3 linked regions of the Homo sapiens genome follow. The protein of the gene in region 2 interacts with the protein of the main gene of each other region in a biochemical or structural test. Each region holds a gene or a part of one and is shown on either strand. Other genes may lie near its edges.

Region 1 (10,265 bases), on a different chromosome or scaffold from region 2:
AGCGTGTAAGTGAGAGCCGAGACTTGCGCCTGTATGCTCGGGCCATGGGCTGTCACTGAATTTTCTTACAGTTTAGGGAGTCTTTTCCAGAAAGTTCTAAGGACATTTATTGGACTGAAATAGATTTAAGATTAGGAGAGCTGAAGGTAAAACCTTTATTGGGAAGGAGTGCAGCATCTGCACACCAGGGGCCGTCCTGTACCTGTCCAGTGCCTGCCCCCGCAGCCCCACAGGATGCAGCCGTTGCTGGTTTTCGGGCACCCTTTTGGAGGGACCTCCCAGGTTTCAGCCGTGAAGCCCTTGCCGATGCAATGATGCAGCATTTTTATGATGACCGAGAGTGTTCTCGTAAAACATCCCTCTTCCGCACAAAACAGGCCTATTCTAACTTTTAAGGCAATCGCGTCGTGTCAACGGGCCAAGAATAATAAATAGCTTTAAAGGCCAAAAATGTTACTCTGACCCTAATATCTGCATTGTCCTTGAAACCTTGCAGCTGTGTTTGTTTTTCCTTCATCAACCAAAGTTAATGTTATTTCCCCAACTGCAACCCCGTTTATAGAGAATTGAGTCCCATTTGCTGTGTCTGACATTTTTAGGACCATGATGTTTTCATGTCTTCCCTTAGCCTTATTCTAGTATCTTAGAAACCATGATAGACTCATATTAATGGGACCAGTCTTCATTTTCCTTTGGAGTATTTATTCTTAGCATATAAACCACGCTTCTCTTACTAATAACAGAATTCCAAAGGCCCTGGGAGGAAGGAACCCAGCAGCCTGAGGTGTTCCAGCACAGCCTGTCCCCAGATCAGGCCATCTGCTGGGGTCAGGGCCCTGCAGTGGAGCTTGGGCCCCACTGTTCACCAGTCCCCCTTGGTGTGTTTCAGCTACCTCCTGCCCCATCTCCTTCCATCTAAACCTGGCCTGGACACCCACGGTATGCGGCACCCCACAGCCAACACCATTCAGAGGGTATTTAAGATGAGCTTCGTTCCCGTTGGCTTCTGGCAAAGGTTTATAGCACGGATGCTGATCAGCCTGGCGGAGATGGACCTGCAGGTATTATGGCTGCGGTTTCTGCATAGACAGATGCCCGAGAGCCACCTACAGTTGTACCACTGGGGGAGGGGAATGCCCTTTGCTGGGGGGCCCTGCCTGGAGACCCTTCTCCTAGAGCCATGCCACCAATGTAGTGCCAGGGGGCAGGTGTGGCATGGGCTGCTGGCCAACCCACTGAAGCCATCCTGGGAGTTCCAAAGCAGCACCCTCCTTAGACAGAACACGCCCTTTATAAACAGTGGTTCTCAGTGTTAGCCCACCTCAAAACCACCTGGAGTTTGTTAGAACACAGTTTGGTGGCCCCACCCGAGGTTCTGATTCAGTAGGTGTGGACTGAGGCCAAGAATTCACATTTCTATCCATTCCCCGAGGTGATGCCGCCGGCCCAGCAACCACACTTGGAGAACCGTGAAGTTAGAAGCACGGTTTTGCCGTCCTGGCTGCACGCTAGACTCGCCTGGAGGAAATTCTAAAAGACACAGACCACACTCCAGACCGATTGAATCAGGGTCTTTGAGTGTGGCATCATTTGAAAAAGTGATTCCTCTTTGGTATTTTTAAGGCTCCCAGGCGAGTCCCCTGTGCAGTCCAGTTTGAGAACCACTTGTGCAGAACTGTACGTTGGTTCTGGTAACACGGGAGACCCCCCGCCCAAGGAGTTAGCTTCTGTGGGTTTACCTGGGGTTACAGGAAGGCGTCCCCGCTGTCAGACAACATTAATTTCATGCAGGGCAGGAACATGGAAGCAACATTTGCTACAGTGGTGTTTTTCAAAGTGGGGTTCCTATACCAGCAAAATCAGCCTCACCTGGGAACGTGTGAGGAACACACGTTCTCAGGCCCCACCTCAAACCCACTGCATGAGAAACTCCAGGGGGAACCCCGCACTGGTTTTCACAACCCTCCAGGGGATTCTGACACACTTTTGGTTTTGCGAACCTCTGGCATAATCCCTGACTGTCAAATCCTTGACATTAAACTCCGTATGAGTTTACTGTTGCTACATCCTAATTAGAAAGCCCTTATTGAATTATAACTTCTTAGCTCTATAAAAATGTTCTTTGATCTTCCCATTTTTACCGAAATGGTAAGAAAAAAATCAATGCAAAAGCCTTAAAGTCCATCGTGACAGTAGCAGCCTGTGCTAGCGGGGAGGGAGATGGGTTAATAGCGCCAGAAGGGTGCACTGATTGAAGGAGTGGGCGCAGGCGCTGGTGCTCCTACGTTCCCATTCCTCTGCCCTCCCTTTGAACTCTGTGTGCCGCTGTCTTCTCAAGGGAGGGTCATGGAGCACTAGCATCGTGGGAGGCTGAGCTGACAAGTGGGGCCCAGCTGGGCCTGGAGGCCAGGGCGCCCTTCCGGGCAGCAGCTTCCCTCACTCGAAGTTAGGAAAGAAGTCCTATTGAAATTCAGATGGGTGACAGGAGGGGGAAAAGAGTGCAGTCTCATCACTCATCAAAGGCATGCAAATTCAAGCAGCAGTGAGATGCCAGTTTTCATCCATCACATTAGCAAAAAGCTGAGCCGTAATCCCCAGCCCGGGGCACGGAGCGGCCCCGCGCACACTGGTAGTCAGCGCACAGGACAGTCTCGTCGTTCGAGAAGCGATTCCTCGGGATACATCCAGAGCTTTAAAACGATCAGACCCTTCGACCAATAATCCGACTGGTAAACATCTAAACTGAGGACATCATTTTCAATCAGAGAAAGCTCTGTGCCTTTCTCATGTAACTCAAGGTGGTTTTGAGGGAGCAAAAGATTGGCACCAACTTACACTTCCAGAAGAGAGTGGTTCAGGAAATTACTATGCTTAATAGAATATTAAACTTTAGAAAAATGAATTTTATGTGTGTTTTTAATGGCATAGGAAAGGTGGGGTTTTTTAACATATACGAAATTAGAAATCCAATATGGCTTCAGCTGTTTTTCACAAACATATGGAGATAGAAAAAAAAAAAATCCTGGAATAATATATACCAAAATCTGAATGATCTCTCTGCTTGGTGTTAAATTGGTGTTTTGTTTTCCCTCTTACATTTTTCTGTATTTTCTACATTTTCTAATATGAATTTTTGCTTGTAAAGTCAGAAAGGGAAAAAAATTTTAAAGGAAAGCCTATTTTTCAATTCTTTGGAAAAACTGTGTTTCCGGAATTCCCTGGAGACCCCGTCAGCTAATGTAACGTTCAATTTGGCAGCAGGGATGAGCAGCGTGGGAGGAGAGGGTGGGAAAGATGGGGGACATTTATCAAGATGGGGCCCAGCCCGGCCTCTGCAGAGCTCTGCCCAGGGCCAGCGAGGAGCCCAGAATACTTAAGCAGGGTCTTTTCTCTGTCTTTCAGCTTTTTGAAAACAAGAAGAATACTAAAAGCAGGAACAGGAAAGTCACCATTTACAGTTTTACAGGAAACCAGAGAAATCGCTGTAGCACATTCAGAGTGAAAAGAAATCAGACCATCTATTGGCAGGAAGGGCTCCTGGTCACTTTTGATGGGGGCTACCTCAGGTAGGAACACCTGGAAGCCCACCTGCCAGGTCAGCAGGTGCCACAGCAGCCACCGCGGGGCCACGTCAGCAGGATGCCTCATCCTCTTGGTGTCCAGAATTTTGCTCGTGAGAGCGGCTCGTCATGGCAGCTTGCTAGAAATGTGAGGCCCTCCCACGAGTGTCCCAGAGGCTCCGGTCTCCTCACCCCTGCTGAGCCCCCCTTGCAGGACGGGAAAGGCAAAGGCAGATGTGGCGGCCACAGCTGAGGACTTGAGGGACGTGGCGGCCATTGAGCTCAGGAGAGCCTCAGGCACTTCCCATGGTTATTCAGGTCACCATGGTGACCTTGCAGCCATCCTGCCCGTCCCCTTGTTCTGTGAGAAGCCAGGCTGGGGACAGGGGATGCTGAGACTCCTCAGCCCCCATCTCCACTGCCCATAACCAGACACGGAACTCAGCTCCCTGTGCCATTTATTCTTGGTTTTTTGAGAGCGGTAGACCTAAAGTCAGCCCAACAGGTTTAACGAATGATAAACACCCAAGATTATTTTAATGTTTACAATGAACTTTGCAAAATATTCTTCAGCTCTGTGAGAGGAGAAGAAGGGAAAAGGGGAGGTAACTTTACAGAGGGCTTGATTGGCACCTGCCTCTTCCGCATAGATGTTCTCACTTAAGGCCCAGGGTTGCTGCTGGACAGATGAGCATACTGAGGTTCAGGGAGGTCTGGGAACTTCCTTAGGGCCTCACCTGAGGGTCAGCTCCCAGGCTGAGCGTCCCTGACTGCAATCTTCCTCGTGCCTCCTTCACCAGGCCAGGTCCGGGGCAAGAACAAGGCAGGGCCACGCACACGTACATACAGGGAGGAGTCCCCCATCGGTCCTGCAGGGCACAGAGTCTCTCCAGGTCCCCGGGGGTTGGTTCCTGTCCCTGGGGGTAGGGATATCATCCCAGGGTCCCCCAGAGCCAGATCGCAATGGGCTCCTTTTGGTCTCTGGATTGCAGTGTGGAATCTTCCGACGTGAACTGGAAAAAGAAGAAAAGCGGAGGAATGAAAATTGTTTGCCAATCAGAAGTGAGGGACTTCTCAGCCATGGCTTTCATCACGGACCACGTCAATTCCTTGATTGATCAGTGGTTTCCCGGTAAGAGGAGATGCTAGAAGCAAGCCCTCATTCATGCTAATATTTCTTATGAATCAGGGTGGGGCTGCTGCTTTCGGGGTGGACAAAAATCCCACTGGGATTCAGCCCAAGAAAACTAGGGGGTCTTAACAGCACTTTGGTGGGAGTCCTGGCCCCCGAGAAGTCCAGCTCTGTCACTGGGGGGAGTCCCACGGGGAGGACTGGGCTCGGACACCACTGGGAATGTGCAGGGAAGCGGCCTGCCAGCTGCCCACAGGCGTGGCAAGAAAGATGACACTGGTACCACGAGTGGTCCACGGAGATGCTCAGTGTGAGCTCACACGTGTCTTGTTTTCATAGTGAGGACTGTGTGGCTGAAATTGCAGGGGAGCCGGCAGATGGAAATTTATCCCCTGCGCAGGGGCAGGGATGGAGGGGAGCCGTGGCAGCCAAGGGGCCTTGCTCTCCTCCCCTGCCACCCCACCCATCCCGGCGGTGATCAAACCACTAACACCGCCCTTCTCAGACCCTTTGGATCTGTTTCTTCATTGATAGTTCACCCAAAAAAAGTACTCTTTGAGTGAAGTTCCTGAGGCCTCCTGTTTGTTTTGCTCCTGGGGTGGAGACGACTCCCAGAGCAGCCTGCCAGGGGGAGGCCATCTGGGGTTTAATGGGGCAAGCAGCTGTGGGAGGGGCTGCCCTGAGAGCTTCAGCCCTGAACGCTGGAGGCCAAGCAGCTGTGGGACAGGCTGCCCGAGAGCCTCAGCCCCTGAACGCTGGAGGCCAAGCAGCTGTGGGAGAGCGGGTTTGGAATTCCAGTGCCACCCCTGCAAGCCTCGGCTGGTCCCCCGGCCTCCTGGGCCGGCCTCACCTGCATGCAATGCCTGCATCCCAGACAGCATCAGGGAAGGTGGCTAAGAGGCAGTGGCAGAATGCACTCAGGATACACATTCCAGATCCCAGGGTCTGGTCTCTGTCAGGGTTGGGGTCCTTCACACTGTTGGCAGGAAGGGTGACCTACAAGGAAAAAAGGCTTAGAAAGGAGCCCTCGGAGAAGTCAGCTGGGTGTGCGTGTCATGGTGATTTGGGAGGCACTTGGCTGTCTAAGGGGGCCCTTAGGCCCATGTGAACCCTTCTGGGCACTTTGCAGCTCCCCACCAGCCAGTGTTCCCCACACAGCAGGTGCTGGGCAGTTTGACAGGTGGGTCCCTTAGACAGTCACCTGAGATGGAAAGGGCTCTGGTGAGCACCTGAGACAGATCGCCTGGAGCCAGCATCCCCAGCCAGGGGCCCCTCCCAACGGGATGCCTTACACATGGACCTGCAGATATCAGATGTGCCTGGAAAGTTCTAGGCATCCACCTCCTACCTTGCATGAAGCAGGCAGTTGGCCGGCCCTGAGGGCACCTCCACAGGGCATCTTGGAGGGTGTTTCTCTGCACCTCCTCTCAGAGGCGTGGGGGAATCCCGTGTCCGGTGACTGAGTTTCGTCTATGATAATTTGCACTCATTTCTGCCCCTGCATTGCCCTTCATGGACATTGTAAACCTGATGTTTCTAATTGTAAGAAGGGTGCCTTCCCCACTGCCGTGATGGTTGGAGGATAGCTCACACCTAGTCTGCGATGACCTGTTAGGGCCCAGTCATGCAGGAGGGATCCCCCCACTCCTCTCAGGCCCCCCAGCCAGCCTGCTCAGTGTCCCGACCACTGGACAGTTCTCGGAAGCATCCTGAACCCTCCCTGGACACATCTTTCAGGACAAACAATTGCGCTCTCCAAAAAGGCACCCGAATGTGGCAGTGGGTTTCAGCCTGTCTCTTGGGTACAGGCCAGGACAGGCAGCTCCCCTGCTGCGAAGGCCTCAGGGCCTGGGGTGCAGAGTGCTGCTCGGGGGGCCCTCCTGCACCACCTTCTTGTGAAGCTGTCTCCTGCTCTGTCCTTATTTAGCCCTGACAGCCACAGAGAGCGACGGGACGCCACTCATGGAGCAGTACGTGCCCTGCCCGGTCTGCGAGACAGCCTGGGCCCAGCACACGGACCCCAGTGAGAAATCAGAGGATGTGCAGTACTTCGACATGGAAGACTGTGTCCTGACGGCCATCGAGCGGGACTTCATCTCCTGCCCCAGACACCCGGACCTCCCCGTGCCGCTGCAGGAGCTGGTCCCTGAACTGTTCATGACCGACTTCCCGGCCAGGTATGCCCCGAAGGCCCCTCCCAGAACACAGTGCAGGTCACAGGGGGCGTTCCTCGCTGTGCAGTTGCCGAGTGATCTCCAGGAAGACCCCTCTGGGGCGGGCAGGTGCCCCGGCCATGGCTTCCCACCAATCTCAGTACCTTTTAGGTTCCCATCCTCGGCTGCCTGAAAGGAACCAGGCTGCCGGCTTTCCATTTTGGAGGCCTTGATAGGCCCAACTGGGAAGAGTGCTTTGCAAGTGCAGCCATCCTGCCTCCCCATACGGCTCCCCCTTCCCCTCGTAGCCAGAGCTGCTCTCTCCTGAGCTGCCTCTCCTTTCCACTCCTACCTCCCCACCAGCTCTAGGGCCAGCAGATAAGTGCAGCCAGTGCTCCTCAAGCATTCAGGAAGGGGAGAGAAGGGAGAGCTCCCACCCAGAGCCTTGTTTACCTTCTTTGTCAAACGCTGACTCCTGTCTGTAGCCCTAGCGCTGAGCTCCCACCCAGAGCCTCGTTTACCTTCTTTGTCAAACGCTGACTCCTGTCTGTAGCCCTAGCGCTGAGCCTTGGACCCCTCAAATCTGTTCTTAGAGTTTATTGTACCTATGCTAACCCAAGATCATAACTAGAGAGAGAATCGGGGAGGAAATAGGAAACGTCACCTTTCAGAAGAAAACTTCCAAAGGGGTCCTTTCTCTACGGCCACCACTTCTGTGGGGTTCACCCTGTGCCAGCCATCACCACCTCTGAGGCCGTTCCTGTCCTGAGAGCCCTCTGTACAGAGGAGACTGAGGCTTAGCAAGCCTGCATAACCTACCCAGGTGTGCTCACCCACAAGTGGCAGGGCCGGGGTGGCCCAGATCTGTCCAGCCTCACAGATGGCTTTGAACCATGACTCTCGGCCGTTGGGGCAAATGACCCAGCCCAGGACCCACCCGCATCAGGGCGGGGGGGATGTGGCTGATGCCGGGCGTGTGTGGCAGGCTCTTCCTGGAGAACAGCAAGCTGGAGCACAGCGAGGACGAGGGCAGCGTCCTGGGCCAGGGCGGCAGTGGCACCGTCATCTACCGGGCCCGGTACCAGGGCCAGCCTGTGGCCGTCAAGCGCTTCCACATCAAAAAATTCAAGAACTTTGCTAACGTACCGGCAGGTAAGCGGGTCCCAGGTTGGTGCTGTTTTTCTCAGACATATGCTGCCCGGGTCTAAGCTCTGTGCGGCCTTAGAGAGGCCTGAGGCTGCAGGCACCCCATGTCCTACTGGCTGACACTGCGCTGTCCCTGGCAGACACCATGCTGAGGCACCTGCGGGCCACCGATGCCATGAAGAACTTCTCCGAGTTCCGGCAGGAGGCCAGCATGCTGCACGCGCTGCAGCACCCCTGCATCGTGGCGCTCATCGGCATCAGCATCCACCCGCTCTGCTTCGCCCTGGAGCTCGCGCCGCTCAGCAGCCTCAACACCGTGCTGTCCGAGAACGCCAGAGGTACCGCGGCGCGCCGCCCCACCCGGCCCCGGAGACCGACAGAGCCCCGGGCGCCTCCTGCCTGGCACGGGGGGTAGAGCCTCAGGTGGCCTTGGCAAGCCCAGGGCACGCCCAACCCATGGCTCGTGTGACCATCCCCTGGCTGCGAGGCCAGGCTCCCCGCCAGGTCCAGTCACTAGGCAGAGCCTTGGCGAGGACGGGGGAGCGCACACTCTGGAGTCGGCTAAGACCAGGCTCTGCCGCGGTCCGGAAAGCCGCTGAGTTTATTTGCCTGTAAAAGGAGGATGGTAACAGGCCTCGCTGGGAGGGCACCGAGCACGGGAGCTGCATTGAATCACTTTCCCAACTGCACACGTACACGGCTGCTGAGACTCTGAGACCGCAGGGTCAGTGGGACCATATTTTAACATAAAATGTCGAAGTAATTTACCTTGAGAAAAGAGCAGCTAAACTCCAGAGTGGCCAGAGGGTGAAAGGTAGCTGTCTTTTGACTAAGGAAGAAGAAATGCTATGAAAATCAATCACTTCTGCCTCAATGGAAGATAATTTTTTAAACAGAATTCTTTACTTTTTTTTAATACAGGATCTCACTTTGTTGGCCAGGCTGGAGGACAGTGGTGCAATCTCAGCTCACTGCAGCTTTGACCTCCTGAACTCAAGCCATCCTCCCACCGCAACTTCCCGAGTAGCTACAAGCACACGCCACCACACCCAGCTAATTTGTTGTTGTTGTTTGTAGAGATGGCCTTTCACCCTGTTGCCCAGGTCGTTCTCGAACTGTGAGCTCAGTCGATCCCCCCACTTTAGCCTCCCAAAGTGCTGGAATCACCGGCATGAGCCACACGCCCAGCCAAACAAAATGCTTCTACTTGCCTCTCACCCCTTTACGTAGGACAGCCTTGACCTGAGGTGAACTCTAGAGATTTCGAACCCTTGCTCATTCAGCAAAATGCCAGCAATTCCAGGAATAAGATATCAGGAATGAAGCTACAGCGATGAGCATTTCTATCCTAAATACTGTTTCACTTAACCAGGCCATTCTCTGTCCTTTATGGCAGTCTGGTGAATAGTGAGAATGTGTCAATGGAATATAAAGTATCTAAGGGCCAGGCGCAGTGGCTCACATGTGTAATCCCAACACTTTGGGAGGCCCAGGCGGGCAGGTCGCTTAAAGCCAGGAATTCAAGACCAGCCTGGCCAACATGGTGAAACCCCATGTCTACTAAAAATACGAAAATTAGCCAGGCATGGTGGCACGCGCCTATAGTCCTAGCTACTCAACTTGGGAGGCTGAGGCAGGAGAACTGCTTGAACCCTGGAGGCAGAGGTTGCAGTGAGCCAAGACCATGCCACTGCACTCCAGCCTGGGTGATAGAGGGAGACTCTGTCTCAATAAAAGAAAAAAGAAAAAAAATCATAAAGTATCTAGGGAGATCGGAAGACAAAAAGACAGTTGTTATCATGATAATTTGATTCTATCAAAACTGAAATTTTGATACATTTGAAAATTGTTTTTCTTTGCAAGATTCTTCCTTTATACCCCTGGGACACATGCTCACCCAAAAAATAGCCTACCAGATCGCCTCGGGCCTGGCCTACCTGCACAAGAAAAACATCATCTTCTGTGACCTGAAGTCGGACAACATTCTGGTGTGGTCCCTTGACGTCAAGGAGCACATCAACATCAAGCTATCTGACTACGGGATTTCGAGGCAGTCATTCCATGAGGGCGCCCTAGGCGTGGAGGGCACTCCTGGCTACCAGGCCCCAGAGATCAGGCCTCGCATTGTATATGATGAGAAGGTACGTGCCTGGATCCCCTGGCCCAGCCCCACAGTGTAGGAGCCCAGCCCTCAGGCTAGCCGGGCAGTCCTGGAGGCACCTGAAGCTTCGGGGCTCAGCATCCCCAAAAGCACATTTTTCTCACTCTCCCTTG
Region 2 (10,265 bases):
AGTGATGAGGGCGTCTGAACTAGACCCTAAAGAGGGAGGCCCTCGGGAGGGAAAGAAGGAAGGAGGGATGTCCCAGGAAAAAGGACAAGTGTTCAAGACAGGAAAACAACAGGCACTTTGGGAGGATGGGAGGAGGAGGTCCATGCCTCCTAGGAGAGGAAGCTGGAGAGAGGCAGTGGCTGGAGGGCAGAGGCCCAGCCCACCTTGCTTTATCTTGGGAACAGAGGGGAGCCATCAGAGGAAGCTGGGCTGACAGCTGCCGCACGGTGGAGCTGGAAGGTGTCTGCTGGATGTGCACTCCTGAGAAGGGGGCCACCAGCTCAACACTCCAGACCTCAGTAGGGGTGGCGGGATGTTCTCTCTCCTGCAGTCATGGGGCTGGGCAGGTGGACACTGGCCTCGAGCCTGGTCTCCTGACCTCCCGCTAGGTCCACTGGGAAGGTAGAGTCTATTCATCCGGACGGGTCTAGCCCCATGCTCATCATCCCTCCTCTGTAGCTCTGAGGACAGACCACCACCCACTCCGGTGCCCACATACATGCCCAGCTGTCTTCCTGGCATGGACTTACTTTCCACTACCTGGAAAAAAAATCCCCCTCCTTCAAAGCCCAGCTCAGAGGGATTCCTTCTTAGCCCCTCACCACCTGAGGGGAGCCACCTCACTGCAGGGATCCCCCAGCCCCTGGCCCAGACTCCTCTCATGGCAGCCCCAGGGGTGCAAGCTACGGGCTGCCAGTGCCCAGGCCCCGCTGTGGTGCATGTGAGGGCTTGGCACCCCCAAGGGGAAGGGGCTGCAGAGCCCACAACCCCCTTCCACCTCGGGGCCCCAAGGGAGGGCTGGCAAAGCAAAGACTCGGTGGTAGTCACAGCAGCAGACAGGCGAGGCGCTGCCTTCTGAGGGTGGCTGGAGGGCCTCAGTGTCCCAGTCTGTACAGTGGGTCTGGATGTGTGGTTTAAGGCCCTTCCTGCTCTGGACCCGTAGTGAAGTGGTGCCTGGAAGGGTTTGGCCAGGAGAGAGGGATAGAAGAAGGGAGAGGCCAGAGATCATTGACCGGTGACCACATTGCCCGTGTGAGGCCGAAATGAGATCTTGGTGTGCAGCAGGTGCCGTCCTGGTGCTGCGTCCCAGGGTGGCTTGGGGTCAAGGATTCCCTGGGCTCCACCCCACCCCCGTTAGCTTCAGGGCGGGACCCTGGGGCCTCAGGGAGCTAGACTACTGCTGCCTCAAACCCCAAGGGACGTGTTGGACGGGAGGGGCCTGGGGGCAGAAGAGTGGGCTGTGCCCCCAGGAGGACAGGGACCTGGGGGAGGGACAGGACGCAGCCCTGGGCCTCTGGCCATGCAGCCCTCCCTTCCTGTTGTCTCAGGATGGCCCCGGCAGGATGCATCTGCCAGAGTTCCAGACCCAGACCTCCCCTGGGGCCTGCTCCCACCCACACCGGGATCCCACCACATACACACTCATGTGTGAACACACGCCAGCATGTCCGAGATACACAAACATGCATGCATGTTTGCACATACGCAGGAAGCCACACACACCACTCAGACATAGGCACACACAGACTCACACACCCAGGCCTACAGTTACAGATGCACATGGAGGCACGCGTGTGCACACACACACACACACACACACACACACACACACACCACCTCACGGGGAGGAGGGTGTGGGGGCAGCAGGGCTGAGTCCTGCAGGACAGAAGGCCCAGCCCGGCCAGCCTACAGTCTCTGGCTGATGGTGGGTTTCAGCCAGATGAGGCGGGTTTATTTGTATGTCTGAGGAAGAGCCCTGTGAGAAGACCTGGGGGTGTCTAGGGAGGCCTGGGCAGGGAGAGCCCGGAGGAGGCTGGGGCAGCCAGCAGGGTCTGTGAGGGTGCGAGAAGCTGAGGAGCGAAAGGACACCTGTGAGGTGACACCACGTGGCCTGGGAAGGGGCGAGGCCCCTGGCAGAGAGCAGGCAGGAGGGGGCGAGGCCCCTGGCAGAGAGCAGGCAGGAGGGGGCGAGGCCTGCGTGGTTCGGGGAGGACCTGGGATGTGCGGACCCTCTGGGAAGCAGCGGGTGTAGGGCTGCAGTTCAGGAGGGAGGGCCTCAGGCAGCAGCACTGCAGGGGCCGTGATGTGGAGGTGACACACTCCAGCGCCCCTCCCCCGCTCCTTCATGCCAGCCGCTCAGCTCACCGGGGTCAGAGGTTGGGGTTAGGTCCAGGGCCGGTGTGTAGCTGAGGATGGGGGCTGTGGGGCAAGGCAGGGTGCGCCTGTGGGAGAGGTTCGTGGCTGTCTTGGCGCCTGGGAGCTGGTGCTGCTCACGGCGCACATGGTGAGGCCAGGCCACGCGGTGCTGGCTGAGAACCTGAGCTGCTCCGGCCCTGCAGGGGTCTGCGCTTGCGATGCAGAATGCCCAGCCATGCCCCATCAACGTCGTGCCAAGTCACAGCCCAGCACCACGCTGACCCTGTCTCCCACCCCAGGCCTGGTGAGTGGCTACTCCATGACCCCCCCGACCTTGAACATCACGGAGGAGTCACACGTCATCGACACCGGTGACAGCCTGTCCATCTCCTGCAGGTACTGGGTCCCTCTCCCACTGGCAGGCCAGAGAGGCTGCACAAGCCCAAGGCAGGAGGTGGTGGCTGTGGGCCCAGATGGCAGCCCCCTCCCAGGGCAGAGTCAGGGCAGAGTGGCCTCGGGGCCGTGTGGTCTCCCAGGCTGTGGGTGACTTCGGTCCTCCCCAGCCTCAACCACACACCCCCATCAGCATTTCTTTTTTTTTTTCTGAGATGGAGTCTCACTCTGTCACCCAGGCTGGAGTGCAGTGGTGCGATCTCGGCTCACTGCAAGCTCTGCCTCCCGGGTTCACGCCATTCTCCTGCCTCAGCCTCCCAAGTAGCTGGGACTACAGGTGCCCGCCACCACGCCCGGCTAATTTTTTGTATTTGTAGTAGAGACGGGGTTTCACCGTGTTAAGCAGGATGGTCTTGATCTCCTGACCTCGTAACCCACCCACCTCAGCCTCCCAAAGTGCTGGGATTACAGGCGTGAGCCACTGTGCCCAGCCCACCCCATCAGCATTTCATATGGGGCCTCATCACCCTGCACCCCACTCCTGACACCTCACACTGACCCCAGGCCACCTCCCAGGTCATCTGCATCCACTCCCAGCCACCCTGGGAGCACCCACTGGGGCCCCAGAGATGGGTACCTCCCCACCTTCCCAGCTGTGATCCAAGGCCTGTGCTTGGCCACAGGCCAGCCCCGGGAGCCTGGTAGAGGCCCGGGGGTCGGGGAGTGCCCTGCCCTGGGCACGGTCTGTAGTGTGCGCCCAAACCCTGGGCAGTTCCATGCTCTGGGTAAGACAAACCTGGTGAGGCTCGGCCTGAGGGAGGCTTCTCAGGGACAGTCCCCATGGGCTGCCCTGGGGCCCACCTGACCACTCCTGTCCTCTGCCAGGGGACAGCACCCCCTCGAGTGGGCTTGGCCAGGAGCTCAGGAGGCGCCAGCCACCGGAGACAAGGACAGCGAGGACACGGGGGTGGTGCGAGACTGCGAGGGCACAGACGCCAGGCCCTACTGCAAGGTGTTGCTGCTGCACGAGGTACATGCCAACGACACAGGCAGCTACGTCTGCTACTACAAGTACATCAAGGCACGCATCGAGGGCACCACGGCCGCCAGCTCCTACGTGTTCGTGAGAGGTGAGACTTGGAGGCGGGCCAGGCTGGAGCAGGGTCCCGGGCAGCTGGGGCCCACACCGCCCCCAGCCTGTGGACCCTGGGCTGGCAGGAGGAGAGAACGGGGCCCTACCTGCTCCAGCGGGTGGCTGGTTCAGGACCAGCACCACCCAGCCCCGTGGAGCCCTCCCCCAGCCTGGCCGCCACGTCCCTTCCCCAACAGCTTGCTCCCTCTCCATAGACTTTGAGCAGCCATTCATCAACAAGCCTGACACGCTCTTGGTCAACAGGAAGGACGCCATGTGGGTGCCCTGTCTGGTGTCCATCCCCGGCCTCAATGTCACGCTGCGCTCGGTACGGCCCCACCCCAACCCCAGCATCCGACCCTCCCATCCCACCCCTGGGAAAGGCGGCCGCCTGTCTGGCCAGGAGCAAGGGGCAGCTGGGCAATGATGGTGGCCTTGTCCCTCCAGCAAAGCTCGGTGCTGTGGCCAGACGGGCAGGAGGTGGTGTGGGATGACCGGCGGGGCATGCTCGTGTCCACGCCACTGCTGCACGATGCCCTGTACCTGCAGTGCGAGACCACCTGGGGAGACCAGGACTTCCTTTCCAACCCCTTCCTGGTGCACATCACAGGTAACAGGGCTGTGCCCCGTTCCCAGTAACGGGGCTGTCACTGCCTCACTGGCCTCAGTGGGTGTCGTCCTGTGAGGGCGTGGGAGTCACTGTGTGCGTGTCAACAGGCAACGAGCTCTATGACATCCAGCTGTTGCCCAGGAAGTCGCTGGAGCTGCTGGTAGGGGAGAAGCTGGTCCTGAACTGCACCGTGTGGGCTGAGTTTAACTCAGGTGTCACCTTTGACTGGGACTACCCAGGGAAGCAGGTGAGGTCAGCAGCGCTGCCAGGCTGTCCTGTCCCCAGGAGTCCCTGTGACTGTACAGCACACACTGGGCCTCCGCGTGGAGGATGTGTGGGCCCAGGCCTGCCCCAGGGGCCCCGGTCTGAGTGGCAAGTGTTCCACCCAAAGAAAACTCAGGGCCTGGGTCCAGGGCTTCCGGAGCCACCGCTGGCTGGGCTGGGAGGTGTGCCTTCGGTGGGGTAGCTGTGCAGGAGCCCGCCTGCTGACGCGGGGCTTCCCTGGGTGCGGGCAGGCAGAGCGGGGTAAGTGGGTGCCCGAGCGACGCTCCCAGCAGACCCACACAGAACTCTCCAGCATCCTGACCATCCACAACGTCAGCCAGCACGACCTGGGCTCGTATGTGTGCAAGGCCAACAACGGCATCCAGCGATTTCGGGAGAGCACCGAGGTCATTGTGCATGGTATGGCCTGGGAAACCAGGGTCCTTGTGCCCTGTGGGCCTGGGCCCAGAGCTCACGGTGCCCTTGAGCACTCAGGAGTCCAGCCAGAGGGAAGGGAGGGCCACGAGCAGAGGAGCTGCCCAGCTCCTGCACCGGGCGGCATGGCCAGCCCCAGTCTGCGGATGTCCGGCTGCCGGGGCTGCAGGGGCCGTGGGGGGAGTCCCTGGTCAGTCCACGACGGGTCAGTCCTGGATTTACAGTGACTTCTCCTGTCCGGCAGAAAATCCCTTCATCAGCGTCGAGTGGCTCAAAGGACCCATCCTGGAGGCCACGGCAGGAGACGAGCTGGTGAAGCTGCCCGTGAAGCTGGCAGCGTACCCCCCGCCCGAGTTCCAGTGGTAACAGCCCTGGCTCCCCACCGACCCCGCCGATACCCTTCCAAGTCCAGGGGCAAAACAGACCATAGGGGAAGACGGGCAGCGTCCTCCCCGTCAGGACCTGCACACGGAGACCAGGCATGGCGGGGGCCTCTCTCAGGAGACCCCCCAAGGAACCCGCCCATAATGTGATATTTCAGATGGAAGGTCTGTCTGTTCCTGCCACACTGTGAAAGGTTTCAGTACCAGCCTTCTGTTACATGTGGGTGTGGTGGGCACAGCGAGGGGCTTTTCCTAACTGCCTCCTGACCGCTGGGCCCCTCTCTGCCCTGCAGAATCTCCAGGGCCTGCCCTGCAGCAATGGCTTAGCGTTCCCTATGCCTCCTTTTGCGAGGCTGCCTCTCCCAGGACCCTTCTGTCCAGAAATTTGGAGATGCCACAGGGAATTGACAGATTGCCTGGGCTGGGCCTGTGCTGCACGGCAGCGAGCGAGAGAGCTTCCAGGAGGCCGACAAGCTGCTGGAGTCCCCGCAGATCCCCGATCTGCAAGCGTGTGCTGCGGCCCAGAGAAGGGAGGCCTCAGGGGTGGCCCTGTCTCCGCTGGCTACTCCCTGCAGGCTCTGGGGGGGCATGGCACCCCTCACAAACACGTCCTCAGGCCGTCTGAGTCATCCACATGGCTCACCCACAGTCAGTCACACTTTGAGTCCCCATTGCATAGACGAGGAAGCAGAGGCTAGGAAAGGGTATTCCTAACTGATCGCCAATTCCCCAGGAGGGGTCTCTGCACTGAGCTAGCCCAAGAGCCTCCTTCTCTTCAGCCTGGGCACCTCCCTCCTGGCAGGGCAACTTTTCCTGGAGCTGGGCAAGCAGAGGCCCAGGGTTTCCTCAGCCAGGGCCCCTTGCACTGGCTGGGGGCTCGTCTCTCCTGGGATGGAAGGCCCAGGGTGTCCTGGCCCTGAGCCCAGTGTGACCCTCCCACTGAGGACACAGACTTCGGTGTCCATCCAAGGCACCTGGTCAGTGCCAAGGCCCTTGGGGCAGAGTCCTGAGGGCACTGGCAGATCCTGGAGCCTCACTCACGGGTACAGCTCCTGGAGACCCCTGGGCCCTGTCCCCTGCCCTCCAAGGCCACCATTACTGAGCCTGCTCTGGGCAGGTGGCAGCTCTGTTGCGTCCAGGGTCTACCCAGTCCTCAGGCAGCTGCCTCTCAGAACAGCTTTCCACTGGCTCACTCCTGCCACATCTGGCTCTCTTCCTATGGCAGCCACCCACCCTTCCTGTGGTGCCCACCCTTCCTATGGCACCAGCACATGACGATGGCGAGCACTGACTGGGTGGACGGTCTAGCAAACACACAGATGGGCTGGTCCTTGGCTTCCGAAGCACCCGCAGTGTGTCCAGCACGCTGCTGTCACTGTCCGGGTTAAACCTCACGACAGCTGCAAGGTGCATGTCATCTCCATTGAGGCAATGAAGGAGTCTCAGATCCAGCAAGTGGCAGACTCAGGACCAGAGCCATGCAGACAGCACCACCTCAGTTCCGCCCCTGCCCTGCCCTGCCTCACTCTGCGACCCCAGGCCAGGCACTCCCCCCGGGCCCCTGCTGTGATGTCCAAGTTGAGAATGGGCCCCTGCCTCCCCTTCTCTGTTGGTCTCTGCCCGAGGGCTGTGCCTCTCCCAGGACACAGTGGTGTATCTCTGGCCTGCCACACCCAGCACCAGGGGCAGGCACCTGTCCAAAGGAGGAGCATCTCCATACAGAGTCCAGGCCACAGAGACAGGTGCCTGCAGGGGCCCCAGCACACCCTCTGGGGCTGAGGCATCTGCTTCCTCACGTGTGCAGCAGACATGTAGGCATCTGGGCGCAACTCTGCAGGAGGCAGCACTGCCCTCGTGGGGCTCCCAGCCCAGGGGGACGATGGGCAAACAGACACAGCAAGGCAGGGGCAGGCCACAGCATAGGACAGTCAGGAAGGCTGCACGCCCCCACCCAAATGAAGGAGGCAGGGAACCCTGCAGATTCCTGGCTACAGAAATGAGTGTCCCAGCGAGGCAGGCAGTGAGAGCCAGGCCTGGGGGCGGGGTGTGGGCAGCAAGAAGCCCACATGTCTGCAGGGGCCACGCACATGTCAAGGAGCTAGACTGTGCTCGCAGGGACTGCACCTCCACTCCTTCAGGTGTCTAAGAAAGAGGACGGGGTCTCCAGGCCGTGCCCAGCTGGGTGGAGGAACCAGGTGTGTGGGACCCTCCTGGGCTGGGCTGGGCAAGCCTGGCTGAAGAAGGCTGTCTGCAGCCACAGGCAGGGAGAGAAGGCGGCTGCCCCAGCAGTGACATGGTCATCTCACTACTTGTGGAGAGTTCAGAGGCTTTGGGGCAAGGCAGGAGGTGCTACTGCAGACCTCAGTGACCAATGCCCGAGCCGGCCGCCTGACACGGTTGTCACACCTGGCAGATACGGCCTGGAGACCATCTCCAGGGACTTAGACCATCCCCTCGCAGACCAGTGTTCCCCGTCCTACCCTGCACTCCTGCCAGCCCCTCCCTCCTCCCAACTGTATTTGGGGTGGGGGTGCCAGCATGAGGTTGGGGCTGTGGTGGGATCTGTATGGGCCCTGACCTCCCTTCCCTGGCCAGGTACAAGGATGGAAAGGCACTGTCCGGGCGCCACAGTCCACATGCCCTGGTGCTCAAGGAGGTGACAGAGGCCAGCACAGGCACCTACACCCTCGCCCTGTGGAACTCCGCTGCTGGCCTGAGGCGCAACATCAGCCTGGAGCTGGTGGTGAATGGTAGGTCAGGGACGGGAGAGCGCACGGGTGGGCGGCCTGGCATTGGAGGCCAGCTGACCGGCCATCTGTGTGCCCACAGTGCCCCCCCAGATACATGAGAAGGAGGCCTCCTCCCCCAGCATCTACTCGCGTCACAGCCGCCAGGCCCTCACCTGCACGGCCTACGGGGTGCCCCTGCCTCTCAGCATCCAGTGGCACTGGCGGCCCTGGACACCCTGCAAGATGTTTGCCCAGCGTAGTCTGTGAGTACAGCTCCAGCCTCAGGTCCCCTGCACAGCCACAGCCCCCAGCCTCAGCCATGAGGAACCTCCTTTACAGCACCCCTCACTGCCCAGGTCTTCCCTGTACCCCTTCTCAGGGCCCTGCTCTGAACTTGAACCCTACCTTCAGCTATAGCCAATCCCTGGCCTCACCTCGCCTGAGTGAGGCTCAGAGCCTCCCTTGCACCCATCCTCCATCAGCTGGCCAAGCTGGACACAGGATGGGTCTGGCCCCTGCCCACCTCCCTCAAGAGCGAAGACCTCTGGACACGTAATTGCATCATCTGGAGGGAGAAGGAAGCACATGTCTCTGAGCACCCAGCAGGACACCTCCAGCGGGGTGGGGACCTGGGGGGGTGTCACCTGAGCCCCTGGGATGGTTGCACTGAGCCCCACGGCACACCATGTGTGCTCATGGGCCTCAGCTCATCTGTGCACCACTCACATCCCCTTAGAGACAGGGAAATAGGGTCAGAGAAGGGAGGCGGCTTTCCCAGGGGCACAGCTGTAAGCAACAGGACCCAGCCACCTGCTGAGCCGTGCTCCCCTCCACTGAGCGGGATGCCAGCAGGACATTTAGACAAGCAGGGGGTGAGAGGAGGACGCCCAGGTGGGCAGGGCTTGAAGGCACTAGGGAGCCAGTGAAGGGTGTTGAGAAGTGGAGACATGGCTCAGGTTTGCCTTTTAGCAAGAGATTCCTAGTATCAAACTGGGGCGGGATGGGAGCTGGGAACCTACATGGGAGATGAGGGTAGCCCCACTGGCTGTGGCTCTGGTGTGGTCAGTGGGGGAGGCTCAGTAGGGGTGGCATGAGCCGGCCCCAGATGTCCAAGGTTCATAGGTATTCTTCTAGATCGTGCGGCATGCAGCTCACTGCCAGCACCTCCAAATGTCCTTCCTTCTGGGTGTGCCACCTGTATGCTCTGTGCCAAGTGATGGAGCCCTTCGGGGGGTCCCTGCTCGGCTCCTCCACAGGGGCAGATATGAGCCTCCCTTGGGGCCCTGAGACTACCCCCCCAATCCTGGCAGGAGGCCAAGCTTGCTGGGGATGCACACCCTGCCCAGAGGGAGGCCGCAGCTCCTAAAGCAGGAGAGAGGGAGAGGCTGGGCAGAGATGCCTCCGGGGGCAGCATGGGACTGTGCTGGGCCTGCAGCCATGTGGGCAGATCCCAGGTGGCCTCTGCAGGAAGGGGCACAGAGAAGCGGGACAGAGTGCACATGTGCCTGAGGGACAGTGGGCACAGGAAGCTGGTGTTGGCAGCCTGTGTAGGATGGGTTGCCGGGTCCTGAGCCTGAAGGGTGGGAGACAGAGCTCCAGAAACAGGCCGGGCTCGGTGGCTCACGCCTGTAATCCCAGCGCTTTGGGAGGCCAAGGCAGACCAATCACCTGAGGTCAGGAGTTCGAGACCAGCTGACCAACATGGAGAAACCCCGACTCTACTGAAAATACAAAAAAAATAGCCAGGCGTGGTGGCACATGCCTATAATCCCAGCTACTTGGGAGGCTGAGGCAGGAGAATCGCTTGAACCCAGGAGGCGGAGGTTTCGGTGAGCTGAGATTGTGCCATTGCAGTCCAGCCTGGGCAACAAGAGTGAAACTCCGTCTCAAAAAAAAAAAAAAAACACCAAAGTCCCCTTCCCATCTCCCTCACCCAGGCCCGAGGGCCAGCCTCGCCCACGACCCCATATGAGAAGGTGACTGGATATGACAAGGGCTTGACCCCGCCCCCCATGTGGGCCCTTCCTGCCTGTATCCCTGACCTGCCCTTGCCTCTTCTGGTCCTGGCAGCCGGCGGCGGCAGCAGCAAGACCTCATGCCACAGTGCCGTGACTGGAGGGCGGTGACCACGCAGGATGCCGTGA
Region 3 (10,265 bases), on a different chromosome or scaffold from region 2:
AGCCTTTCTACAGGTGTTTTGGGGGAAAGATTCAATTTTATGATAAAGACAACACAAAGACTTCCTTGTAGCTTGCCATGGAACTGTAGAGTTTATTTATTATGTGTGGGGTTGTGGTGCTGGTGAAAATCTCTTGTGGTAGGCAGCTTTGAAACTAACCCCCAGTGGTCCCCATCTCCTGATAGTCATGCCCTTGTGTAAATGCCTTCCCCTCGTGTGTGAGCTGAACCTAGTAACTTGCTTCTTATGAAGAGAATACAGCAAAAGTGATGGGATACCACTTCCATGATGAAGTTAAAAAAGATTGCAGTCTTGTTTCTACTTATTGCAAGCTCCCTTCTTTCTTACTCTGTCTCACTTTCTCACACACACTCTCTCTCTCTCTCTCCTCCTTCTCCACTTGCAGGCTTTTTTTTTTTTTTTTTTTTTTAGCTTATTTTACTTTAAGTTCTGGGATACATGTGCAGAACGTGCAGGTTTGTTACACAGGTATGCATGTGCCACGGTGGTTTGCTGCACCCGTCAACCCGTCATCTAGGTTTCAAGCCCCGCATGCATTAGGTATTTGTCCTAATGCTCTCCCTCCCTTTGCCCCCCACCCACCAACAGGCCCTGGTTTGTGATGTTCCCCTCCTTGTGTATATGTGTTCTCATTGTTCAACTCCCACTTATGAGTGAGAACATGCGGTGTTTGGTTTTCAGTTCTTGTGTTAGTTTGCCGCCATGTTAGAAAGGTCCACACGACAAGGAACTTGAGGCAGCCTCTGGCCAATAGCCAGCGAGGAACTAAGACCCTCAGTCCAACAGCCTGTGAGGAATTGAGTCCTGCAAACAACAGCTGACTGAACTTGAAAGCACACTCTGCTTCAGCTGTGCCCTAAGATGCCTGCAGCCCAAGCCAACATCTTAACTGCAGCCTCCAGAGACATCTGAAGCAGAAAAACTGATCTAGGCCATGTCAGCATTTCTGGCCCACAGAAACTGAGATAAATATTGTTTTAAGTAGCTAAGTTTTGTGGTAATGTGTTATGCAACAATAGGCAAACTCTCCTTTATTTTTACTGCATTTTCAAGAACTCTCCTGAGATTATCCTGAATTCCCATATAGGGGAATAGAAGGAATAGAGAAAACGTCTGCTTGAAGTATACTGATACAATATTACCATTTGAGATGTGACCCTAGTCCCTAAATTATTCCCTTATAACATCTTCTCCATTCCTTTCTCCTTTTTCATCCCTTAATACCAATTTTTTTCATATGTTGCTTCTTCAATCACTGAAAACATAATATGAGTTGTCTGGAGCACTGCATTATACTACACAGTCTACCTAAACTTTGTTTTTTTTTATTTTTTTCCTCATAATAAAACATTCTATCCTGAGAAACTTTTTTTTTTTTTTTTGAGACGGGGTCTCACTCTGTTGCCAGGCTGGAGTGCAGCGGCGCGATCTCGGCTCACTGCAACCTCCACCTCCTGGGTTCAAGCGATTCTCCTGCCTCAGCCTCCCAAGTAGCTGGGATTACAGGTATGCGCCACCATGCCCAGCTAATTTTTGTATTTTTAGTAGAGACGGAGTTTCACCATGTTGGCCAGGCTGGTCTTGATCTCTTAACCTTGTGATCCGCCCACCTCAGCCTCCCAAAGTGCTGGGATTAAAGGCGTGAGCCACTGTGCCCAGCCCCCAAGAAACCTTTTTAAAAATTTCTGATTATTAATATTTATATAAAAAGCCTGAAGGCTGAACACATGAGAGATAAATTACTCAATTAAGTATTATTATGGTTATTATTTAATTCACTATAATTAATCATGAATCCTTGAAAAAACAAGAAACCAACCTATGAAAATATTCCCAATTTAAAATTCTACTTAAAGGTTGCTTTCCATTTGCTTTTTCTCTTTTTATAAAACTAAGTTTTGAAATTGGAGTGGTAAGCTTTTAATCAAAATCATATGCAATTATGACCAACATCACTGATTAAAGGCTTCATAACTCTACTATTCTTTACTGCTTCCCAGCAGGACTGCTCTGCCTCAGGAAATTACCTTGAAATCCACAAGGGAGAGTTGATAACAAATTCTAATTGGTGTAACATGCTGATTTCATTATTGACTGCTTCTAACTTAGTAAATAACTTCAGATGATCCCCTAGAAATTACGAGATAAATTCATAGGGTTTGCAAATTCCGTGATATTTTAATGGTTTTCTCCTTAGAAAATGTCAATGTCATTGACTTTTTTTAGATCACCTAGTCTTGGTTTTATGGTAACGTTCATGTTCATGAAATAGCTCCAGGTTCACCTCAGGCCTTCAGTCAGGTAATCTGGTTAAGGCCTTTGACCTCTAGATGAGGTGCCAACCCTTTGTTCTCATGAAGGCTATATTAATTCACCACATAGAAACATCTAGAGCTTCAAATTTCTGTCTGAAGTGAGCTCGAGGCTATGGTTCCTACCACATCAACTCACTTAGACACACAGTCATACACATGAACACTAAGAATCCTCTTCACACTCATGCCCAAGGTGCTACCAAAGAATATGTCCCCATCTATGCACAGCTCTCCCCACAGCCAACAACAGAGGTCTGTGCAACCCCAACATCTTTTTACAAATGGGAAAAAACAAATACAATTTTAGGTAGAAAGAAAAAAATAGTTTTGGCCTAGTGGTTAATTTGAATTATGCTATATATATAGTCAGTTACCAGGTAATCATGTTAATCAAATCTAGAATGCTAGATCAGCAATGCTGTAGCAGCTTCTTGTGTTGTTTTGACATGACATCAAAAAATTAAGTGCCTAATCAGAAACCACAGAACTTTACTTGACAAGCATTTTATTCATTATGACAGTACCTACTCACACTGGTTTTCTTTCTTTCTTTCTTTGTTTTTTTGTTTTGTTTTGTTTTGTTTTTTTGTTTTTTAAGATGGAGTTTCACTCTTGTTGCCCAGGTTGGAGTGCAATGGTGCAATCTTGGCTCACTGCAACCTCCGCCTCCTGGGTTCAAGTGATTCTCCTGCCTCAGCCTCCCAAGTAGTTGGGATTACAGGCATGCACCGCCATGCCTGGCTAATTTTGTATTTTTAGTAGAGATGGGTTTTCACCATGTTGGTCAGGCTGGTCTCGAACTCCTGACCTCAGGTGATCCACCTGCCTCAACCTCCCAAAGTGCTGGGATTACAGGTGTCATCCACCACACCTGGCCTGATTTTCTTTTAAAGAATCTTCATACGTTACTAGGGAACGATCATTATCCTTATTTCAAATTATGTTATTTTCTAGTCTGGAGTTTTGATCATTTTGTCTTGAGAATTTTCTCCCTTCATTATTCTCCTAGCAATACCAGTACCCAATATTACAACTCAGTGTCTAACTTTTACTTTTCACTTTTACTAAAAAATCACACAACTTTGCAGAAATAAAAAAAAAAGCTATACCTAATCTATTGGTTCGGGGAGGGGGTGGTTTTTTTGAGACAGGATCTTGCTCTGTTGCCCAGGCTGGAGTGCAGTAGCATGATCATGGCTCACTGCAGCCTCGACCTCCTGGGCTCAGCCGATCCTCCCACCTCAGCCTCCCAAGTAGCTGGGAATACAGGCACGTACCACAATGTTCAGCTATTTTTTTCTATTTTTTTGTAGAGATGGGGTCTCGTCATGTTGCCCAGGCTGGTTTCAAACTCCTGGGCTCAAGCGATCTGCCGTTCTTGGCCTCCCAAAGTGCTGGGATTACAGGCATGAGCCACCATGCCTGGCCATCTTTGGTTTTTGTCTATGTATGTATGGCAGTAGAATACTCCTTGTGGATGAATCCCCAGGTTTTATTTTCTAAGTAAACCTGATGATTGTTTTTCTATTGAGAACAATAGTCTTCCTGGGTTTTCTTTGCCCCCACATCCTTGAGTTAAATTTATTTCTATATTTTGAGATGTTCTTTTGTGTTTTTTATCTCAAAATCATATTGAATATATTTCTCTGTGAAGTAAACATTAAAAAATCAAGATTCTGCACTAATACTGGAAATCAAAGACCGACTTTCATTCTCCCTCTGACACGTGTCTGCCCTACGCAGACTTTTGGAGAAAGTAAGTGTGTTTGTCACTATCTAATAAAGAGAAAGAATTTGTCTCCACATCCACACACCTACCTTTTAGTGTTTCAATGTCATAGAAAGTTGCCGCAAACCTAGTGGACCGATGGGATGCTGAGCGAGAGTCCATACTGGTAAAACTTTTGAGCCTCAGCCTGCATCTCCACAGCTTCCAGTCCTCAGAGTGAGTAATTCGAAGTAGTTCCTCCAAACTAGAAGCAGCCCTGATCTGCTGTTCAGATCGTTCCAATGTGGACTGAGATGATCGCTTAAAAAAACAAAAATACCAGTTTAAAAACAAGTTACTAAATTTTAAATTTGTCATAATAATCTTCATTTCTGACACTTAGAAGTGTAAATACATCTGTAATTAGAGATACTATTGAAACGTATGCCAGTGCCTAGGAAAAAGGATATCTTCTAGTATTTTTGGTTTACATTCTGCTCATTTTTGATTGAATCAGAGGATTTACTTATTCTTCCTGGGTTCTCAGAACACTTACAAAGAAAATTGTAGTGCATTGAATGGTGGGCCTCAAAATGATATGTCCACATCCTAACCCACAGAACCTGTGAACATTACCTTAATTTGGACAAAGGATCTGTACAGATGTAATGAAGTTAAGGATCTTAAAATGAGATCCTCCTGGATTATCTATGTGGACCCTAAATACTGTACAATGACAAGTGTCCTTATAAGAGACAGAAGAGAAGACAGGGACACAGAGGAAGGTCATTTGAAGATGGGGGCAGAGACCGGAGTGATGCAGTGACAAGCGGGGGATTGCCTAGAGCCATCAGAAGCTGGATGAAGCAAGAAAAGATTCTCTCCAAGAGTGTTTTGAGGGCGTGCAGCCTTGCTGACCCTTCCATTTTGGAATTCTGGACTCTGGAGCTGTGAGAAAATACATTTCTGTTATTTTAAGCCACCAAGTTTGTGATAATTAGTTATGGCAGCCATAGGAAACGAAAAGATGTTTATCATATTATTTTTGTGACAGTAGCTACTGACAGTTGTTTTCATCTCTGTTATTTGTTTGAGAAATTGATCCACAAAGGCCTGGGTAACCTGACTACAGTCACAAAAAAAAGATATCAAGCCCCTGATAACCTGAATTTTCTTACTTCTAACTCTCTTTGTTTTCTTTTAAAACCTACTATTTCAAAAACATGATTTTTTTCTGACAAAATACTTTTCTGGGGTTTTACGCTCTAGAAGTATAAGAGTTTAATATTCTTATGGAGCTATCAAATACTCTTCTAGAGTTTGCTTTCCATACAGTTGCATGAACTGTATTGGCGGATACAGTGCAACTGTATTGGATGGGTTTGTAAGAAAAAAAAGACTTGGTAGATAAAAGATTTTCAGTATGTAGCCTCTTGTTCAAAATTGGGGGCTTAGTTATATAAATAATGATATATGCATACAATGAATTCTATGTGATCATCAAAACAAAGGATGTAGAGGTATATTGGGACAGAACGAATTGAGATCCTTCCTGGAATGTGCTGGAGAAATGATAAGGTGATCTATCTATGGCTAGGGCCTCCGATTTTCTCTTGCTGACCCGGTAGTTACTAGATGTTTGTTTTGCTGGGTGGTTGGAATATGCAGGCTGAGGCCATTTGTAGAGCTGGGATGAGGGAGGAGGCAAAGGACCAGTGCTGAGAGAGGAGGGTGGAAGGGAAAGGTGAATGTCAGCTGCCTGCTGCAGGGCGAGGAACAGTGAAGGAAAACAAAGATGAGCAAAAGGGGCTGTTAAAAGGCTTTGCATTGGGTAGTGTGATGTACACTCTCCTCCACTGAGCCTCAAAAGCTGTAGTTAAAATCTACATCATGCATTAGCATTTTAGGAGGAGAAATTTTTTTTAGACATGCTAGTGGACACTGAGAGTTGTCCAAAAATGGGTACTCAGAAGAGCAAGTGTGGTCTAAGTCATGTGTGATTCAGCTATGATATAACCTCTTTTAAAATTACTTATGTATTTTTACTTATGCACTTATGTACATCATATATACATACTTATATGGATATATGAGGAACATCTGGAGACATATACATGAAAATGTAAACAAAGGTTATTCTTTATTTATTTTCGAGACCGAGTCTGGCTCTGTCATCCAGGCTGGAGTGCAGTGGCACCATCTCCGCTCACTGCAACCTCAGCCTCCCAGGTTCAAGCGATTCTCCTGCCTCAGCCTCCTAAGTAGCTGGGACTACAGGAGCCTGCCACCATGCCCGGCTAATTTTTGTACTTTTAGTAGAGATGGGGTTTCGCCATGTTGCGCAGGCTGGTCTTGAACTCCTGGGCTCAAGTGATCTGCTCGCCTTGGCCGCCCAAAGTGTTGTGATTACAGACATGAGCCGCTGCGCCTGGCCAACAATGGTTATTCTTTAGATCAAGAGCTGTCAAACTATGACCTCCCAGCCTAATTTAGCCTGCTGCCTGCCTGTTTTTGTAAATCAAGTTGTATTGACACACAGCCATGTCCATTCATTTACTTATTGTCTACGGCTGCTTTCATACTACAAAAGCAGAGTTGAGAATTTGAGACAGAGACCTTCATGGCAGTTTCAATCTGAGGCCACTTGTCTTTTTTATTCTCAATTCTTTAATATTCTCAGCCATTATCATTTTCATTATTCCACCTATAATATTGCCTCTACTCTCTTTTTTGAAAAATGTTGGAGGCTTTTAATCATCTTACATGTCTCTTAAATGTGCTTTTATATTTAGCTATTTTTTCCTCTTCACCTCTCTCTAATGTGTTATGGGTAAATTAATTGGTTCATCTTTCCAATCACCAACTCTCCAATTGTTGTGAGTCTAGAGTTTACTTTGTTAAGGTTTTAATTTCAATCACCGTATTTCTAATTTCAAGCATTTCTACTTCATTCTTCTTCCTATCTACTTTCTGTTACATTTCTGTATATTCTTCCTAGTTTGTTTGTTTGTTTGTTTGTTTGTTTTGAGACCCAGTCTCATTCTGTTGCCCAGGCTAGAGTGCAGTGGCGCGATCTCGGCTCACTGCAAGCTCCACCTCCCGGGTTCACGCCATTCTCCCTCCTCAGCCTCCTGAGTAGCTGGGACTACAGGCGCCCACCACCACGCCCGGCTAATTTTGTTTTTGTATTTTTATTAGAGACAGGGTTTCACCGTGTTAGCCAGGATGGTCTCGATCTCCTGACTTTGTGATCCACCCACCTCGGCCTCCCACAGTGCTGGGATTACAGGCGTGAGCCACTGCGCCCTGCCCCTAGTTTGTCATTTCAATTTTATGAATATTATTTCTTTATCTCTTTGAGGGTTGCAAATATTTTTAAGTATTTCTTCAAATTATTTTAGATTTTAACTTTATAGGTATGACATATACTGATTATTCATTTTGTTGCTGTCATTCTTAGTAATAATTATATTAACGTGATTTGGAATTTTGGTTAGTAGTTCCATTTTCATTCAGAGATTCATTTTTCTTTCTCATTATTCTTTCTCCAACATTTAGAAGTTTTATGGTTGTACCCCATAATACCCTGGGTCCTGAATCCGAATCTTGTTGAGTATTTATGATTCAGGGATCAGCTCAGCTCACGTCCTAGTTGCAAGGAAGTATCTGCTTCCTCCTTTGCCCCGTTAAGTAATTTCATAGAAGTCACAGCTCCAGGCAGCAATGAGCAGTAACTCTTCCTTCCTCTTTCATGGATCTGATGTAGTGCACTAAAAGAGCCGATTTCCAACTGAAGCTAAATTTTTGATGGCCCCTGTCTTCTAGCCCAGATCCATAAGTCCTGCAGCTTCAGCTTCATGGCTTTAGTGCCATTTCTGTAAATGATTGTCATCTGCAGATGTTTGCCATCATTCAATCAATTTTATATTCTGTGGACTAAGAACGATCTGAAAATATGAATCTACAAGGTTATCGCACTTGGGAATCCAGATGTGAGTGTGTGTCTGTGGGTGCATGTTTTTAATAAAAGCGGGAGAATTATAAGCTGGGGGAAAGAGGCAACAGACAGGAAGAAAGAAAAAGCATATGCAGGAGAGCTAAGGCAGGACCTAGAGGGGTTGTTTTGACATAAGTGCCAGAGATAAGTGGATGTAGTGTGACTAGATGAGAGGATCACTGTCAGAAACAAGAGGAAAATACAGAATGACATGGGTTTGTAGATGGCAAGACTGCCTGGGAAGCTCAGTGAGCTCATACCTGTGATTTCTCACTTTTCGATAAAGTTTGAATCAAGGCAAAATTGTGGGAGTGAGAGGAGTGGGGAGCATGAGGATCATAGATCGGGTTTGTGAAATTGGCTTGCCACAGCTTCTTCATCTAAGAAATCTGGAGATGAAACTGAACAATTGCTAATGTCTCTGGCAGCTTTGAAATTCAATGCTTCTCCATTAAGTCTTATTTGTCAATAGTCTCTCTTTTCCTGATTATTCATTCTCTTCTAGTTGGACAGTACTCCATATACAATTCAGTCTTCAAAATAAAACTTTGTGACAATGCTGCTTCCACGTGAAAATAATGAAACCAAGCAGCTTTTTAAAGATTTTAGAGTTGAAGCATATTGAAAGGATTTTTATGTATTGAGGCAAATTTCACTCAATATTATCCAAAAATACAAGGCCAGGCATGGTGGCTTACACTTGTAATCCCAGCACTTTGGGAAGCCGAGGTGGGAGGATTGCCTGAGCCCAAGAGTTCAAGATCAGACTGGAAACATGGTGAGACCCTGTCTCTACTAAAAATACAAAAATTAGCCAGACATGCTGGTGCATGCCTGTACTCCCAGCTACTCAGGAGACTGAGGTGGGAGAATCACCTGAGCCTGGGGAGGTCAAGGTTGCAGTGAGCCATGATCTCGCCACTTGCACTCCAGCCTGGGCAATGGAGCACGATCTTGAAAAAGAAAGAAAGAAAGAAAGAAAGAAAAAGAAAAAGAAAGAAAGAAAGAAAGAAAGAAAGAAAGAAAGAAAGAAAGGAAAGAAGAAAGAAAGAAAGAAGAAAGAAAGGAAAGAAAGAAAGAAAGAAAGAAAAGAAAGAAAGAAAGAAAAGAAGGAAAGAAAGAAAGGAGAGAAAGAGAAAGAAAGAAAGGAGAGAAAGAGAAAGAAAGAAAGAAAAGAAAGGAGAGAAAGAGAAAGAAAGAAAACAGGCAGATGTATGGTTTTATTATAGTTCTTACAGGATTCAATTCAATCTTAGAAATATTTTTAAACTATCCAACTGTGAGAACTCAGGAGAAAATATCAAATCTCTGGATTGAATTAAAGTAATTAAATGGCTCATACAACTTGCCTCATCATAAAAAATGCAGTGTTTACTCAAGTACTCAGAGTTATTTAAGCTTACTTTCAACCCCAGAATTTAAAACCTAGTTTGAAATAACAGAAATTGCAGACAGTCATTTTGCTATTTTAAGTGGAAGTACTAACAATTAAACTTAAGTAGAAACCTGACAAGTAATTCATCAAGGGCATACATTTTCAAAGGGTTCAAGAATGGTTGTTTGTTCCCAATCGGCTTTCTGCACTGGTTGATTTTTGTATAATGAACTTTATGTTATCCACTTGGGTAAGACAAAAATAACAATTAAAAATGTGTTTATCCCAAATACATACTTAAACCATTGATTTCAGTGGTTTTAATTACTAAACCTTTGCCAAGTAAATTGCTCCTAATTTCTTCCTATTTTCTGATGGAAGTGCTAATCAAAATCAAAATAATTAAAAGGTTTTCATCAAGAGGAAGAAAGTGAATGAAGCAGGGTTACCAGATCTCTGCTTTTTATTACAGCGGCAGCTTTTTTATGGTAATTAATTCAAGACTACTAGCAATTTCACTCTTAAATAACAAATCATTCTCTAATTTCTTGGCTACCACAAGCCAGCTTCTAAATTGGGAGGCTTAAAGTCTTTTTAATAAGACTTCACCATCATTTGAATGTATGCTCCTTTCTGTGGTACAATTTCAAGGGTAGTCATTTCCCCTTTTGCTAATTTCTAAGTTCACACAGCATTCTCCCCTGAGGAAGCATGAGCATCTCCATAGCTTCCTAAGTATTAATTTAGGTCACGGGTGACCAAGATGGCAGGCAAGATATTTGGAAAGGTATAGTGGTGGGGTTTGTAGGAGAAACTTGGAAGTGTCCCACGTTGTGAGGAAGTCAACGG

What was found.
Region 1: the proteins of FLT4 (region 2) and LRRK1 form a complex in vitro, tested with the Homo sapiens proteins (2 studies listed by BioGRID and IntAct, with this or other methods).
Region 3: the proteins of FLT4 (region 2) and VEGFD form a complex in vitro, tested with the Homo sapiens proteins (2 studies listed by BioGRID).

Annotation. Positions count from the first base shown.
Region 1 is NC_000015.10:101,045,092-101,055,356, forward strand, and holds part of LRRK1 (leucine-rich repeat serine/threonine-protein kinase 1), read left to right. Parts: intron 1-889; coding exon 890-1,061; intron 1,062-3,402; coding exon 3,403-3,566; intron 3,567-4,001; exon of another isoform or gene 4,002-4,552; coding exon 4,553-4,692; intron 4,693-5,542; exon of another isoform or gene 5,543-6,619; coding exon 6,620-6,869; exon of another isoform or gene 6,870-7,298; intron 7,299-7,366; exon of another isoform or gene 7,367-7,830; coding exon 7,831-7,997; intron 7,998-8,131; coding exon 8,132-8,329; intron 8,330-9,854; coding exon 9,855-10,132; intron 10,133-10,265.
Region 2 is NC_000005.10:180,623,988-180,634,252, reverse strand, and holds part of FLT4 (vascular endothelial growth factor receptor 3 isoform 1 precursor), read left to right. Parts: intron 1-2,378; coding exon of another isoform or gene 2,379-2,474; coding exon 2,475-2,571; intron 2,572-3,453; coding exon 3,454-3,698; intron 3,699-3,915; coding exon 3,916-4,028; intron 4,029-4,147; coding exon 4,148-4,310; intron 4,311-4,417; coding exon 4,418-4,557; intron 4,558-4,825; coding exon 4,826-4,994; intron 4,995-5,253; coding exon 5,254-5,371; intron 5,372-7,987; coding exon 7,988-8,142; intron 8,143-8,221; coding exon 8,222-8,384; intron 8,385-10,191; coding exon 10,192-10,265. UniProt on the Homo sapiens protein: Tyrosine-protein kinase that acts as a cell-surface receptor for VEGFC and VEGFD, and plays an essential role in adult lymphangiogenesis and in the development of the vascular network and the cardiovascular system during embryonic development.
Region 3 is NC_000023.11:15,358,955-15,369,219, forward strand, and holds part of VEGFD (vascular endothelial growth factor D preproprotein), read right to left. Parts: intron 4,366-10,265; coding exon 4,155-4,365; intron 1-4,154. UniProt on the Homo sapiens protein: Growth factor active in angiogenesis, lymphangiogenesis and endothelial cell growth, stimulating their proliferation and migration and also has effects on the permeability of blood vessels.